Linked DNA regions of Homo sapiens. The protein of the gene in region 1 purifies or fractionates together with the protein of each later gene. This does not show direct contact. Each region holds a gene or a part of one and is shown on either strand. Other genes may lie near its edges. The genes, in order: BBOX1, ITPRID2, EVPL and ITPR1.

Region 1 (3,811 bases):
TTTTCTTCTTCTACCTAGGTTTGAATGAGAGAGGCAGAAGCACATTTCCAATCACTGGGGGAACCTGAGACCATTCTTTCCAACCCATTTTGCCAAATGGATGTCCTGAGGAAGGTGTTCCAAGAGAGGCGATGTCAGGATAGTGTCTGATTGGAGGGTGCCCAAGGCACATGGGAGAATGTGGAAGAACTGGAAAGACTTGGGTGTTGCTGATGTTAAATTACTTAGGTATCTCTGTAGAAACTTAGTGGGTCATTCCTTCTCTTCACAATCCCTTTCTTAAATTTATGATAAACGTGAAAGGTAATCAAAACAAAAGCAGGGCAAAATGGGAAAATAAGTTCCCACTTTAACTTTTTCTGGATTATTTAAAGGTCTACTGGGGCAAATGTGATGAAAATTAAAAAAAAAATTGCAGATCATCAGTGTTTAAAAGCAAATGCTTTCTGAAAATTATAGCTTGTATGTTAACATGATTTGTTGAAATCTGTTTTTGTAATTTAACCAACTTGACTTGTTAGAATTGAGCTCAGTTGAAGCACCATAGCAATTTAGTTAGATGATAAGCTACTCTGTTTCTCTGAAGAAAAGAAAAATTTAGATATAGCTCCTATATATAGCTCCTAGCTATATAGGATGAATTTTTATCAGTGGGATGTCTTTGACAAATTAAAGAACACCTATAAAACAAAAATTCTTATTTTACACTTATTTTTCTTCTTACAATTGTAATTTAGTTTATGAAATATCAGATTGGTTTTGGTGGGAAACAGTAGTTTCACCTGTTCTGAAAAACAGCCTTTGGATTTTTGGCATATTCTTATCTGATGGGATAGGTTTCTTTTACTTCATATTAATACATGTGTGTAGTGTGTGTGTGTGTGTGTGTGTCTGTGGTGTGTTTCCCTCCTAATTTATTCACCTACCATATTTTTTCTCTTCAGAGTAATAGAAGTTTGTCTGGGACTTCTGTTGGGCACAAGTAAATTGCTTGTTTTTGAAATTACTTCAGTGATGGGTGTGGGTTTTCTCCTTTTTTTTCTTTTTCTTAATATTACAAATTCAAGTTTGTCTCCTGATTCTTCAGCACTGTTTGGAAAATCAAGAAAGTAGCTCTGAAATTTATTTTATGCATTGATCTTGGAAATAAAAGTAACTTAGAGCTAGAGCTTTTAGAGCCAGAAAGAAACAGCCTGTGCTATTGTTGGGTCACAGGGCCCTCATCAGACATGCAGGGAAAATGGAAGCTCAGAAATGTTGGGTGTGATTTGTCCAGGCTCACACTGCTCATTAGTGAGAAAGGTTGCCCCAAACCTGGATTTGCCAGCTAAGTTTATATGTATTAAGTGATACTCTTCAAGTTCTCATAAAAGAAATTGCAAAAGTTCTTCAAACATTACTTACAACTAATTTCAATCATAGGCTTTGGAGGGAATTCACAGGAAGCAGATGCAGAAACTTTATAGTTATTATACATAAAATTAAAATTGTAGTAGATTAATATGTACCTGAGAAGGCTGATTTATCTACTAAATTACTTATCCCTCAGAATAAAAGGCTGTTATTTCTTGAGTGTTTTTAGTAAATGGAAAACAAGACCAGCATAGACCTATGTTAGCAAACGTCAGTATCTGTTAATTTTCATCTCTTTCTCAGGAGAAGTATGATGCTTCGATAAAATTCAACAGCCCTTCATGCTAAAAACTCTCAATAAACTAGGTATTGAAGGAATATATATCAAAATAATAAGAGTTACTTATGACAAACCCACAGCCAATATCATACTGAATGGGCAAAAACTGGAAACATTCTCTTTGAAAACTGGCACAAGACAAGGATGCCCTCTGACACAACTACTATTCAACATAGTATTGGAAGTTCTGGCCAGGGTGATCAGTCAAGAGAAAGAAATAAAGCGTATTCAATTAGGAAAAGAAGAAGTCAAATTGTCTTTGTTTGCAGATGACATGAATTGTACATTTAGAAAACCCCATCTTCTCAGCCCAAAATCTCCTTAAGCTGATAAGCAACTTCAGCAAAGTCTCGGGATACAAAATCAATGTGCAAAAATCACAAGCATTCCTATACACCAATAACAGACAAACAGAGAGCCAAATCATGAGTGAACTCCCATTCACAATTGCTTCAAAGAGAATAAAATATCTAGGAATCCAAGTTAGAAGGGATGTGAAGGACCTTTTCAAGGAGAACTACAAACCATTGCTCAAGGAAATAAGAGAGGACACAAACAATGGAAAAACATTCCATGCTTATAGATAGGAAGAATCAATATCGTGAAAATGGCCATACTGCCCAAGGTAATTTATAGATTCAATGCTATCCCCATCAAGCTATAATTGACTTTCTTCACAGAATTGGAAAAAACTACTTTAAAGTTCATGTGGAACCAAAAAAGAGCCCACATAGCCAAGACAATCCTAAGCAAAAAGACAAAGCTGGAGGCATCATGCTACCTGACTTCAGACTATACTACAAGGCCACAGTAACCAAAACAGCATGGTACTGGTGCAAAAACAGATAGACCAATGGAACAAAACAGAGGCCTCAGAAATAATGCCATACATCTATAACCATCTGATCTTTGACAAACCTGACAAAAACAAGCAATGGGGAAAGGATTTCCTATTTAATAAATGGTGTTGGGAAAACTGGCTAGCCATATGTAGAAAGCTGAAACTGGATCCATTCCTTACACCTTATCCAAAAATTAACTAAAGATGGATTAAAGACTTAAACGCAAGACCTAAAACCATAAAAACCCTAGAAGAAAACCTAGGCAATATCATTCAGGACATAAGCATGGGCAAAGACTTCATGACTAAAACACCAAAAGCAAGGGCAACAAAAGCCCAAATTGACAAACTGGATCTAATTAAACTAAAGAGCTTCTGCACAGCAGAACTATCATCAGAGTGAATAGACAACCTACCGAATGGGAGAAAATTTTTGCAATCTATCCATCTGACAAAGGTCTAATATCCAGAATCTACAAAGAACTTCAACAAATTTACAAGAAAAAAAAACCCATCAAAAATGGGCAAAAGATATGAACAGACACTTCTCAAAAGAAGACATTTATGCAGCCAACAAACATATGAAGAAAAGCTCATCGTCACTAGTCATTAGACAAATGCAAATCAAAACCACAATGAGATACCATCTCATGTCAGTTAGAATGGTGATCATTAAAAAGTCAGGAAACAACAGATGCTAGAGAGGATGTGGAGAAATAGGAACACTTTTACACTGTTGGTGGGAATATAAAGTAGTTCAAACATTGTGGAAGACAGTGTGGCAATTCCTCAAGGATCTAGAACCAGGAATACCATTTGACCCAGCAATCCCATTACTGCGTATACACCCAAAGGATTATAAATCATTCTACTATAAAGACACGTGCACATGTATGTTTATTACAGCACTGTTCACAATGGCAAAGACTTGGAACCAACTCAAATGCTCATCAATGATAGACTGGATAAAGAAAATGTGGCATATATACACCATGGAATACTATGCAGCCATAAAAAAGGATGAGTTCATGTCCTCCGCAGGGACATGGAGGAAGCTGGAAGCCATCATTCTCAGCAAACTATCACAAGAACAGAAGACCAAATACTGCATGTTCTCACTCATAAGTGGGACTTGAACAATGAGAACACATGGACACAGGGAGGGGAACATCACATACCAGGGCCTGTGGCGGGGTAGGGGGCTAGGGGAGGGATACCATTAGGAGAAATGCTAGGGCAATTAGTCAAGAGAAAGAAATAAAGGGTATTCAATGTAG
Region 2 (3,811 bases), on another chromosome or scaffold:
AATTCTCCTGCCTCAGCTTCCTGAGTAGCTGGGATTACAGGCACATACCACCACAGCCAGCTAATTTTTTGTATTTTTAGTAGAGATGGGGTTTCACTACGTTGGCCAGGCTGGTCTCAAACTCCTGACCTCGTGATCTGACCACCTCGGCCTCCCAAAATGCTGGGATTACAGGTGTGAGCCACCACACCCAGCCTATAACTATTTATAAAAAGTTATTAAATCCTGTTCTTGAATTTCTAATTATTCCAAATGACTTGCTTCATTAATTCTTGTGTTCTTCTTGAATGGCTTATTTTGAATACGTCATGGTAACTCTCTGAAGCCATAGATTAGTAGTGTGAATGATTCACAAGTTAAACCAAAATGATCCTTCTCAAGCAGATGTTCATCTTTTAGATGTAAAGGAAAAACTTAAGAAGGAGAACTTTTATCTCAGCATTTCTGTAAGAAGTTGACTGTGTGGTCTTCTTGACCTTTAAATGAATTTTTATTTAAATATAACCATTATTGGATATACACATAATCTTTTTTAAGCTACTGATGTGTTAGTAACTGTTTCTAATCCTGTCTTCATACTAATTATTGATTTAACTAATGTACTTGACTTCTCATTTTTAGCTGTTAAGTTTTAGGATTTTTCTATGTTTATTGGTCTGAGTTAAAATAATCCCACATCAGTCAGATATTTGACAGATAATTAAGTTGTTCCTTTGGCCTTTTAAATGTAACTGTGTATGTTTTGAAGATAAGCCTGCCCTGGAATATGAACTCTAACATATGACATGCACAGATATCTGCTACTCTAAAGCCCAATTAACCACTGTTTTGTTATTTGATATTTACCTAAAAGACCTTAGTCAATTTTTATTGAAAATTTACCTGACAGTAAAAATAAATGATATTTTTGTGTGTATGTGTAAAACTCGATAGTATTTGTTTAAGATAAACATTTGCAAGTAATTTATAGAATCATAAACTAGTACGGAAAGAGATACTTTATTCATTTTCTAGTTTCTTCCCTTTACAAATGAGGAAGCATCCCCTCCCTCATTTGATATTGTTTTATAGCAGTGGTTCTTCACCATCTTTCTGAGGGCTATAATATTCCTTTTGATATCAGTGCTTCACAGGGGGAAGGAGCACAGCGGGTGTCAGTGGAGGATGGCAGAGGAGGATCTCCTGTTGTACATTCTTACTACTTTACTGTTTGAAAGTACTTTGACTTACAGTTACATTTGATCACCCCAAGGACCTATGAGGTAGAAATTTTAATTTTAATTTTGCTGTTAATTTTAATTTTGAGGCTGAGCATGGTGATTCACACCTGTAATCCCAGCACTGTGTGGAGGCTGAGGCAGGAGGATCACTTGAGCCCAGAAGTTAGAGACCAGCCTGGACAACATAGCATGACTTGTCTCTACAAATAGTTTTAAAATTAGCCGTGCATGGTGGTGCATGTCTGTAGTCCCACTTCTCCAAAGGCTGAGGTGGGAGAATCACTTGAGCCCAGGCAGTTGAGGCTGCAGTGAGCCATGATTCCACCACTGCACTCCAGCCTGGGCAACAGAACGAGACCTTGTTTCAAAAAAATGAAATAAAAAAAAAAAATACGGATATTTATCGCAGATAATTGTCAGAGGCCGTTAGCCAGTAAGTGGCATGAATAAGACTTGAATTCACGTTACTTGTGACTATACTATACAACTTGGTGAAGGTCAGATATGTTGGTATGGTCAGGCATTGTACAAGAACTAATCATCTGATGCACAGCACCATGCTACTACTTTGGAAAAAGAATGATTTCCTCTGACATTTTTTTGAGCTGTCATTAAAAATTAGACAGAATTGTAATTTCTAAAGCTCTAGTTTTGATTTTCTTTGAAAACCATTTTGATATACAATGTTTATTCAATGATGACAGCTATACAGTCTCTTTTTAAACTTTAGAGGAAGGGTTATTTGAGTTAGAACATCCATGTATTGCTGTCCTGTGCAATACAATACAGTAGTATTGTGCCTAGAAGATCCCTCTTAGTCAAGGTAAACATGACAGCTGTTAAGAAACCAAAGTGGTTCACTGAAACAAAAAGTACATTTTTTAAACAAGAGAAAGAAACCAAAGTGAGTGCCTGTCATTTTAGCAGAACATTGATTTAGAAAGATACAGTCATTGTTTCATGAAAACTTTTTTAAATGAAGTAACCCAAATGTGTGGGTTATTCTAAAGCTGTTTTTCATCTTTGAATCCCAAAACATTGAGACCATGCAATTTTATCACTTTGGTTTAGTGGTTTTTTTTTTTTTTTATATTATGAAACAGTTTTGTTATGAAAAGTTTCAAACTTACTTGAAGATTAGAGAAAATAATATCATGAACACCCATTACTCATCATTCTAATTCAGTTTTATTTGGCTATTCTTGTTAATTATGAAAGGCTGCTTATAGCAAATGACCAGAATTCTACGGAGCATTTGAAACCACTGAATAGGGAAAATCTTGTCACATAAATCTAAATTCTGTGTTCTATATTTGCTTCATAATTCTCTGTGGTGTACCCCATCTCAAATTTGACTGCCGCCTTTTGCACAATTGTGACCAATAATAAAATAAGAAATTCACCCATTATCACTAGCATGTATGTTTCTCTCTTCAGCAAGTGGGTACTCTGATTTTGCTGAGTAAACAAGAAGAATCCCAACTTTAGTTTTATTAGTAAAATGTGACTGTCTCAGCTTTTTGAAGTGCTCCTTTCTTGCACTTAATTATGGAGTTTGTAGTAAAAGGAGAGAGTAGATTTGTTTTTGCCATTGAGTAGCATCTTGAAGAATAGAATGCTGATGATATGTGTTTATTAAAGTCATGTTATTTTGTGATTAATTTCATAAGTCTAAGGAAATAGAATATGTGATAATTCTGTGTTTAAAGGTGAGCAGCCGGGTGCGGCGGCTCACACCTTTAATCCCAGCACTTGGAAGGCTGTGGCAGGTGGATCGCTTGAGCCCAGGAGTTTGAGACCCCAGCCTGGGCAACATGGTGAAACCCCATCTCTACCAAAAATACAAAAATTACCCAGTCTCATAACCCAGTCTCAAAATAAATAAATAGATTAAATTTAAAAAAAACATGACAGTGAGAGATTTGGTATATTAATGCTGTGCCTGAGCCAGTATTCCTAGAACATAAATGCAGAGGCATTGGAATTCTGCTATAATTTTTTGATCTGGTTGATATTTACTTTACAGAAAGATACTTGAAGTAGACCGAGCCTGAATAGAAGCTAATAATAGACATTTTATTGAATATAAAAAGAAAACGCACATTGTTCCCTTGCATACAAGACAATGGTTTTCCTGTTGAACATGTATCTGCTGCTTTGAAGAATTATTCTAATTTTAACAAGATAACAAAGAATAGTAGAATCTATTTTTATATATCTGATCTACAGGTGATGGTTTTGCATGAGTAGTGTGCTTTCAGTTTTCAAAAGATTCATAAACTTCGGTTCCTGGAGCTATGTAGAGCAAAGAAATCACAAATTAGAGCAAATTTTAAATTGGGTAATACTATCTTTAACCTTTGGGCTTTTAAAAATGTTGGTTATTTCACTCTTATTCCTTTGGAATATTTCTTATTCTTGAATAGCTTCATAACTAAAAACTACCAGAGTTTTCCCTAAAATGTGTTAACTATTAGCGCTTTGATTTTTTTTTTCAAGGTTGAAAACCCATATGTTCAGCTAGGTACCACACTTTACTAGGATGTTCTTTATGATTTAAGAACCAATCATTACAGAGTAAAGTGACAGAA
Region 3 (4,273 bases), on another chromosome or scaffold:
TGCCTCAGTCTCCCGAGTAGCTGGGATTACAGGCATATGCCACCAAGCCCCCATTTTTTTTTTTTTTTTTGAGATGGAGTCTCGCTGTCTCAGGTCTACCCTGTTGCCCAGGGTAGAGTGCAGTGGCATGATCTCTGCTCACTGGAACGTCCGCCTCCCAGGTTCAAGTGATTCTCCTGCCTCAGCCTCCTGAGTAGCGGGAATTTTAGGTGTGCACCACCACACCCAGCTAATTTTTGTATTTTTAGTAGAGTCGGGGTTTCACCGTGTTCGTCAGGCTGGTCTCGAACTCCTGACCTCGGATCCACCCGCCTTGGCCCCCCTAAATGCTGGTATTACAGGTGTGAGCCACTGTGCCCGGCCTCCTTTAGTGATTTTAAACCATAATCTCTTTCCATGACCTGCCACTGCATCCCTGCCCCGCACTCAAGGAGGCACAGCCCTCCGAGGATGCCTGTTTCCCAGGCAGGCAAATTGAGCACGTCCGCCCAGGCAAGGACTTGAGCAACGCTGTCCTTGCACTCATCCCCCAGACACATGGGTCCTGCACTCTCAAATGTGAATGAATGGGACACCACATGGCACGGGGAGACAGAATTCGTTTATTGGGATCACTGGGTGGAGGTGGAGGAAGAACTGAGTGGCTGCTGTCCTGGTCTGGGGATGGATCAGGCACCAAGGTTAGGGGAGGGAGCCCATCACCATGTTAGTAAAATAATAAAACAGTGGTTGGACAGAGGGAAGACCCACTGCCTGGGATGAGGCTGCTCTGAGGCAAGAGGTGTACGTATCCTACCTGGCCCAACACACGCACTTCCCCACTGGCTCCTTGGCCCGTGTCAGCGAAGGGAGCGCGGGACGGTGGGGGAGGCGGAGCGGTAGCAGCGGTACCCCTCCAGTGCCGCTGGCAGGAGCAGCAGGCCGCTCAGGGGGTCTTTGCGGCAGCGGCCCATGGCCTCCTTGTAGCTCAGCCGTTCCTTGGAGATGGGGTCTGTCAAATCCTTCTCGTAGCTGGACTCGTCCTGCAGGAGCTGGGCCAGCTCTTCACTGATCATCCCGGAGAGGAGGGCCTGCTGGATGGGGATGCGGCCTGTCCTCTTGGGGTCGATGAGCCCCCCGGTCAGGTGCTGCACCTGCAGGTGTGGGAGCACGCTCTCCCGGGGCATCCAGCCCTTCTGGACGGCCTCGCCCACCGAGAGCCTCTTCTTGGTGACGGGGTCCTCGATGCCGGTGAAGGCCTTCTGGGCGTTAAGCAGCCTCTGTGTGGAGGTGTTCTCGATCAGGCCCCTCTCCATCGCCTTGTGCACAGAGTAGCGCTCACGGCTGAGCAGGTCCACGATGCCCCCTGTGGCCGCCTGGGCCTCCAGTAGCTTCTGCCCAGTGATGGGGTCCAGCATGTTCTTGGCCACGGCCGTCTTGATGCTGCACTTGTTGTCTGTGGTTGTGTCATAGATCCCGGCGATAGGGAAGCTGTCATCACCGAGCCCGAGAGAGAAGCTGGGAGAGAAGAAACTGGTGCTCTGGGGGGCCGGGGAGGCGAGCGGGGACTTGGAGATGATAGAGCCGATGGAGAGTGAGGAGCTTGGCTTGGTCTCCCCAGCTACAAGCAGCGCAAACTCGGAGATGGGCAGGTGGCCGTCCTTGTACAGATGGTACTCCTCCTTAGAGATGCGCCGGCAGCGGAGGGCGGCCTCGATGGAGTACTGCTTCCCGCTCTTGCGGTCCAGGAGCACAGACTCCTCCCCACAGGGCCCCGAGGTGGTGACCTCCTCCCAGTCACACTCGAGCTCCTGCAGCTGCAAGTACTGGCCCCTGTCGATGATGCCCCTCTTGTAGGCCTCGTATGGGGACATGTCCTTCCCCGTCTCGGGTTCCAGGATGGAGATCTTGGTGGAAAGGTTGGTCTCTCGCGTCTGGGTCTCCTGGCTGAGCTCCTCCCGGCTCACCTTGGCGTGGAGGTCCCGGAGCGTCCGCTCCTTCTCGTAGATCTGGTCCTTCTCGCGGAGGATGGCCGCCTCCAGCCGCGAGAGCTCCTGGCCCCGCTGGGCCGCCTTCTGTCGCTCGCTCTCCGTCTTCTGGCTGAGCAGCTTCGACTCCTCCTGCAGCTGCAGTGTCTGCTGCTGCTTCTGCCTCTCCAGAGCCCGCAGCTCCTGCTGCAGCCGCCCACACTCCTGGTCGGCCTGGTCCCGGGCCCTCTGCAGCTCGGACTCCTCCCGGGACCAGGTTCTCCCCAGCGTCTCGGCCCGGTCAATGCGCTCCCGCAGGCGCCGTGCCTCCTCCTCCCGGGCCTGCCGGGCCGTGCGCTCCCTGTTGAGCATCTCCCACACGCGGGCCCGCTCATCTTCCAGGACGCGGTCCTTCTGCACCCGGATCACTTCCTTGTAGATGGTCTTCTCCTGCGATTTGGCTTTCTGGAGGACGTCAATCTGGACCTGCAGGTTCTTGCACTCCCGATTCAGCTCGGTTACCTGGGTCTTCTCCTGGTCCAGGTCCCACCGCAGGGCTTCCGTGGACTTCTCCAGGTCCGGGTCCTTCTCCAGCTTGACCACTTCCTCCATGATGATCTTCTCCTGCACCGTGGGAGGCCGCTTCTCGAGCTCCTGGATCCTCAAGGTCAGCTGCCGCAGCTCCCTCTCCACGGCCAGCTTCTTGCTGCGGTCCTCCTGGAAGCTGAGCAGGCCCTCCTGCTCCTCCACGCCGGCCCGCAGCTGCTGCACCTCAAGCTCTAGCTGGCGCCGCCGGCCCACCTCCTCATCCAGGCTCCCGCTCAGCCGGCTGTGCTCCTCGCGCAGCTTCGGGTCCTTCTGGGTGACCACCACCTCCTGCACCACCACCTTCTCCTCGGGCTTCCTCCTCTCCAGCAGCAGGCGCTTGCTCTGCAGCTCGTACACCGCGTCCTCCGCGGCCCGCCTCTTCTGGGCCGCCTCCCGCACCTCCTGGCGGAGCCGCTCTGCTTCTTTCTCCAGCACCGGGTCCTTCTCGTGGCGCACCACCTCCTTGCTCACCGTCTTGGTCTCCACCTTGGCCCGCTCGCGCCTCCACTCGTCGCGCTCACCCTGCAGGCGGATGAGCTGCTCCTGGGAGCGCCCGTGGCTGTTGACGAGCTCGTTGAGCTGAGCCTTCAGGCGGTCGATCTCACGCAGCACCTCGGGGCTCCTCTCATGCCTCACCACCTCCTGGGTCACCTCCTTGTACTCCACCGTGGGCTTCTGGGCCCGCAGGACCTCCAGGTCGGGCAGCAGCTTCTCCACCTCCTTCTCCACACCGCTCCTCTTGCCCGCCATCTCCTGCAGCTTGGCCTTGAGCCGAGTGATCTCCTGCTCTGTCTCCGGATCCACCTGGAAGATCTCGTGGACGCGCTCCTGGAGCTGCACTTTGGGCCTCTGCTTCTCCACCACGCTGTACTTGCTGTGCAGGTCGCTCAGCTCCCTGGCCAGCGTCGCGTTCTTGGTCCTCTCCTCCTCGAGGAGGCTCCTCAGCCTGGAGGACTCCTGGAGGAGCCCTGGGTCCTGCTCCACCTTCTTCACCTCCTTCACGATGACCTTGGGCTCCACCGAGCTGATAGCCCGCTCCAGGTCTTCGATGCGAGCCTGTAGCTTGGCCACAGCCTCCTCCGCCTGCTTCCTCCGCGCAGCATCCTCCTCCATCTGCAGCCTCAGAGCCTGGGCTGCCTTGACCATTTCCAGATTCTTCTCCACCTTGACTACCTCTTTCACCACGACCTTCTCCTTCACGTCCACCTCCCTCTTCTCAAGGGCCAGTAGCTCCTTCTTCAGCCCTTCCAGCCGGGCCGAGATGACGGCATCCTCCCCGCGGAGCTGCTGGATCTGGATCCTGAGCTGGGCCGCCTGGCTGTCCAGGCCGGGGTCCCTCTCCACCTGGGTGACCTCCTTGGTCAGCAGATGAGGCTGCATGGTCTTCCTCTTGCTTTCCAGCTGCACGACCTTCTGGGCTGCCACTTCCAGGTCTGCCTGCAGGCCAGCCCGCCGCTTGCCCTCCTCCTCCACCTGGGCCTTCACCCTGGACAGGCTGCCCTCCAGCTGGGGGTCCCGGTAGAACTCTACCACTTCCTTCTCCTCCAGCCTCTCCAAGGGCCGCTGGGTCCTCAGCTGCAGCAGTTGGCTCCTCTGCGCCTCCAGCTCATGCTGCACCCGGGCCACCCGCTTCCTCTCCTCTTCCAGCTGGGCCTTCAGGGCCTCTGACTCTCTCCCTGCTTGGGCAGGGCTCTCGGAGCCCTGCTTTGCATCATGGGTCCTTCGGATGTCCTCACTGA
Region 4 (3,811 bases), on another chromosome or scaffold:
GTACACTGAAAGTACAATCTGCTCTTTGAATAATTCAAATCAGAACAGAAAATCCTTTCAAGATATCATTCTTATCAGGCAGGGAAAGTTCTTCATGTTCTAAGTGAATTACTCTGGCTCTTGCCTTGAGACCCATGAAAGTCATTTGGGGTTGACAATGGTATCTATTTAAACCAAGTGATTGTCTTTTGGAGGGAATTGGCATCTTTTCTTTAGGAATGAGAAGTGGAATGGTTGCTTAGAAAAAAAGAGATAGATGAACTCCACAGAAAGATCAAGAGTCTTTTCTTCAAAATATTTTTAAGTGAGGAAGATCAGGGTGTTGGTATTGCGGGGAGGGAGGAGAGTGGGCAGAGAGAAAGATAAAAAAGAAACCTTTAATCCAATGGTGTGCAACCAACTGACTTCCAGAGGGGGGAATATCACATGGCTTTTCAACTCATTTATAAAGATATCATGGAAACTGTCTGATTTCTTCATGAGCAGCTCTTAGAAAACAAACAAAAATAAAACAAACACCAAATATGAACAACAGAAAAAAACAGCCAAAATAAAAGTAGGCCTGGAGTTAGGTTTCTAGGTCAAGCTGTCTTTGGCTACATCTAATTAAGGAGTCTCCACAGGGCCAGTGTCTATCTTGTTTACTATTGGTTTGATTTTTAAAAATAAAACACATTGCATTTGCAGGCTGTCTGTTAACCAGAAGTCCATGCAGTTTTTTTTTTTTCCATTTTTGCTGTTTTAAGTTTGTGCATAGCTCAATTGATGAATGCAATTAAGGCTTGAAGTCGGTGATGTGAATGACATAACTTCTATGATTCCTTACAATTCTCTTGGTTTCTGTGGTTCTGAGATGATTGCTAATGAGAATAAGCCAGATACACCACTGAAACCGTCACCCATTCAACTTTGAGATTTCTAAATTGGATGTAGTTTAAGGCACATGGTGTGGTAAATCTATTTAACAGACTCTAAGACCTGTTCAAGTTGTGTGCGATTCAAATGTTTTATTCTTTATTCAACAAATTTCTTGAGCACCTGCTATGTACTAAGATGTATTCCAGGTGCTCAGGATATAGCAATGAACAAACCATCCCGTTCCCAAGAGGCTTACATCTCAGTTGGTGGGAGGCAGCCAATATAAATAAACAAGTAAGTATTATAGTATTAGAGGTAGTAAAAGCTATGGAGAAAAAGAAAACTGGTTAAAGGGGGAACAGAAAATAACAAGTGGAGAAATTAGATCCCTTGTGCATTGCCGGTGGGAATGTAAAATGGTGAAGCTGCTGTGGAAAACAGCATGGCAGTTACTAAAAAAAATTAAACATAAAATTACTATATGTCCCAGCAATTCCACTTCAAGGTATATACTTTAAAAAATTGAAAGTAGGGACGTGAGCAGATATTTGTACACCTGTGTCAGTAGAAGCATTATCACAGTAGCCAAAAGGTAGAAACAACACAAGTCTACTGATGAATGAACAGATAAAATGTGAAATATACATACAATGGAATATTATTCAGCCTTAAAAAGGGAATTCTGACACATGCTACAATGTGGATGAACCTTGAAAACATGCTAAGTGAAACAAGCCAGAAATAAAAGGACACATATTTTATGATTTTTCTTATAGAGGCATCTAGAGTAGTCAGATCCCTGCAGACAGAAAGTAGAATGGGGATTGCTGGGGGAGATAGAAGACAGGAAGGGGGAGTTAGTGTTTATTGAGGATAGAGTTTCAGTTTGGAAAGATGAAAAAGTTCTGGAAATGGATGGTGGTGATGTCACACAACAGTGTGAATGTACTTAGTGCCACTGAGTTATAACATTTCAAAGTGGTATATTTTATGTTATGTATATTTTACAGTAATTTTAAAAAGCAACAAAACATGATGAGGGGTATTAAGGGAGTACTCAGGTGGGGATTAGATCTTTACTACATGACATCTCAGCACAGATCTGAAGGAGGCAAACGAGTTGACCCTGTAGCTGTCAGGGAAAAAGTGTGTTCCAAATGTCAGAGCAGCAAGTACAGAGGCCCTGAGATAGGAGTGTTTGTGACATGTTGGAGGAAGGAGAAGAAGGCCAGGGGAGAGTGCTAGGAGTTCAGGAGGGAGAGGGAGTCAAGGTCCAGACCTGTAGGGACCAGATTTTGCAGGTCAACAGTGGTTTATCTGAGGACTTGTAAACTCTCACGGAATTCTCAGTGTGGTTTTCAACATCACAAAACTACATTGTCCTTTCTGAAGAGACTCTGGTAAGGTTGGCAGGATCACATACCAGATGGGAACTCGATAGGGGGTAAAACCCAGATTTCTGGACTGTCTGGTTAATGACAGGACTTACCTGGAGTTGTAATTCACTTCAGTAGAAAAGGAAAGTTTGACAAATAGGTGAACGTACAGTTGACTTGGAGAGCAAATTGTAAGAACATAATGATAATCCTGGAGTTTCAACACAAACCTATGTCTTACCGCCACCCTGCGTTGTATCCAGTGTCGTTTTAAGAGATATTTACAAGGAGGACTAATATTCTGCTCTCCAGCATCCTTGAGGAATTAGAAGCTTCACATCAGTGATTCTCCTTAATAAGTGAAGTGGACCCCTGCACATGTGCAAACTTAAAGCAAACCTCAAATTTTGTTACTTATTACATAAGATATACATATTCATGTAGCACACACCTTGGACTCGGCTACTCAGGGGACGGAGGCAGGAGAATTACTTGAGCCCGGGGGTTTGAGGCTGTAATATACTATGATTGCATCTGTGATAGCTACTGTACTCCAGCAAGACCCCATCTCTGTTAAAAAAATTTTTTTAAGGAGAAAAAGATAGCATATTCATTGTAGTGCAACATTAGGAAATAAAGAGGAGCAATGAAACAAAACAAAACAATTCAACTATTAGAGATTAGGGTTTCAGGCTTTTCCTCTAAGTATGCATATGTAAAATTTACGTATATATTTAAATTTCATAAAAAGGGACTAACACAGTATCTCTCATTTGGTAAATTACCTTTTGTACATCTTGAACATCTTTTTAATAAACAGACATCTGTGTCTCATTTTTCTAAATGTGCCTACCCCTTTGATGGCCTTTCATTTTTATTGAGTCTAGGTTTATACTTCCCTGATATATATACATATATAAATAGATATTTGTAAAAAATACATAATATAATAATTTTACACATACACGTATTTAACAGTTTGAATTAGGATCCAAATAAGGTAAATACATTACAAATGGTTGATGTTCACTAATCTCTGTATTTCCTCTACAGATCTTTTTTCCATGCATTTTTTTTGTTGTTATCGAAGAAACTGGGTGATACACGTCTCCACAGTTTAGACTTTGCTGACTGCATCAGTGCAATGTGGTTTAACATGTTTCTGTATCCCCTTGGGGTACCATAATTTGGTAGTTAGATGTAGAGGCTTCATCAAAGTTAGGTTCTTTTCTTTTTTAAATTGAGAAGGGGTCTCACTATGTTGCCTCGGCTGGCCTTGGACTCCTGGTCTCAAGCAGTCTTCCTGTGCCAGCCTTCCCAGTAGCTGGGACTCCAGTAAGTCTGCTCTGTAAACTTTGCTTAGGTGGGTGTGAGATGTTGGATGTCTACTCTTGTTATATGAGCACCCCTTGATGCTCACTACCTGAATCCATTAGTTCTCTCGTCAGTGAGAAATGGGCTGGTAAAGTTCCTGAGATTTCGACACAGCCCTTGTTGTCTTTGCTAGCTTTTTTGATTTCTGTATAACAAGATGTTCCAGGCTCATCTTCTCTATTTCTTATCCCAGACCAAGAATC

Evidence for each region.
Region 2: the proteins of BBOX1 (region 1) and ITPRID2 purify together in Homo sapiens (affinity purification with mass spectrometry; 3 studies listed by BioGRID and IntAct, with this or other methods). This does not show direct contact.
Region 3: the proteins of BBOX1 (region 1) and EVPL purify together in Homo sapiens (affinity purification with mass spectrometry; one large-scale study listed by BioGRID and IntAct). This does not show direct contact.
Region 4: the proteins of BBOX1 (region 1) and ITPR1 purify together in Homo sapiens (affinity purification with mass spectrometry; one large-scale study listed by BioGRID and IntAct). This does not show direct contact.

Annotation. Positions count from the first base shown.
Region 1 is NC_000011.10:27,043,520-27,047,330, reverse strand, and holds part of BBOX1 (gamma-butyrobetaine dioxygenase), read right to left. Parts: intron 1,090-3,811; exon of another isoform or gene 927-1,089; intron 146-926; exon of another isoform or gene 19-145; intron 1-18. UniProt on the Homo sapiens protein: Catalyzes the formation of L-carnitine from gamma-butyrobetaine.
Region 2 is NC_000002.12:181,905,153-181,908,963, forward strand, and holds part of ITPRID2 (protein ITPRID2), read left to right. Parts: intron 1-3,811.
Region 3 is NC_000017.11:76,006,264-76,010,536, forward strand, and holds the end of EVPL (envoplakin), read right to left. Parts: coding exon 840-4,273; 3' UTR 582-839; downstream 1-581. UniProt on the Homo sapiens protein: Component of the cornified envelope of keratinocytes. May link the cornified envelope to desmosomes and intermediate filaments.
Region 4 is NC_000003.12:4,496,345-4,500,155, forward strand, and holds part of ITPR1 (inositol 1,4,5-trisphosphate-gated calcium channel ITPR1), read left to right. Parts: intron 1-3,811. UniProt on the Homo sapiens protein: Inositol 1,4,5-trisphosphate-gated calcium channel that, upon inositol 1,4,5-trisphosphate binding, mediates calcium release from the endoplasmic reticulum (ER).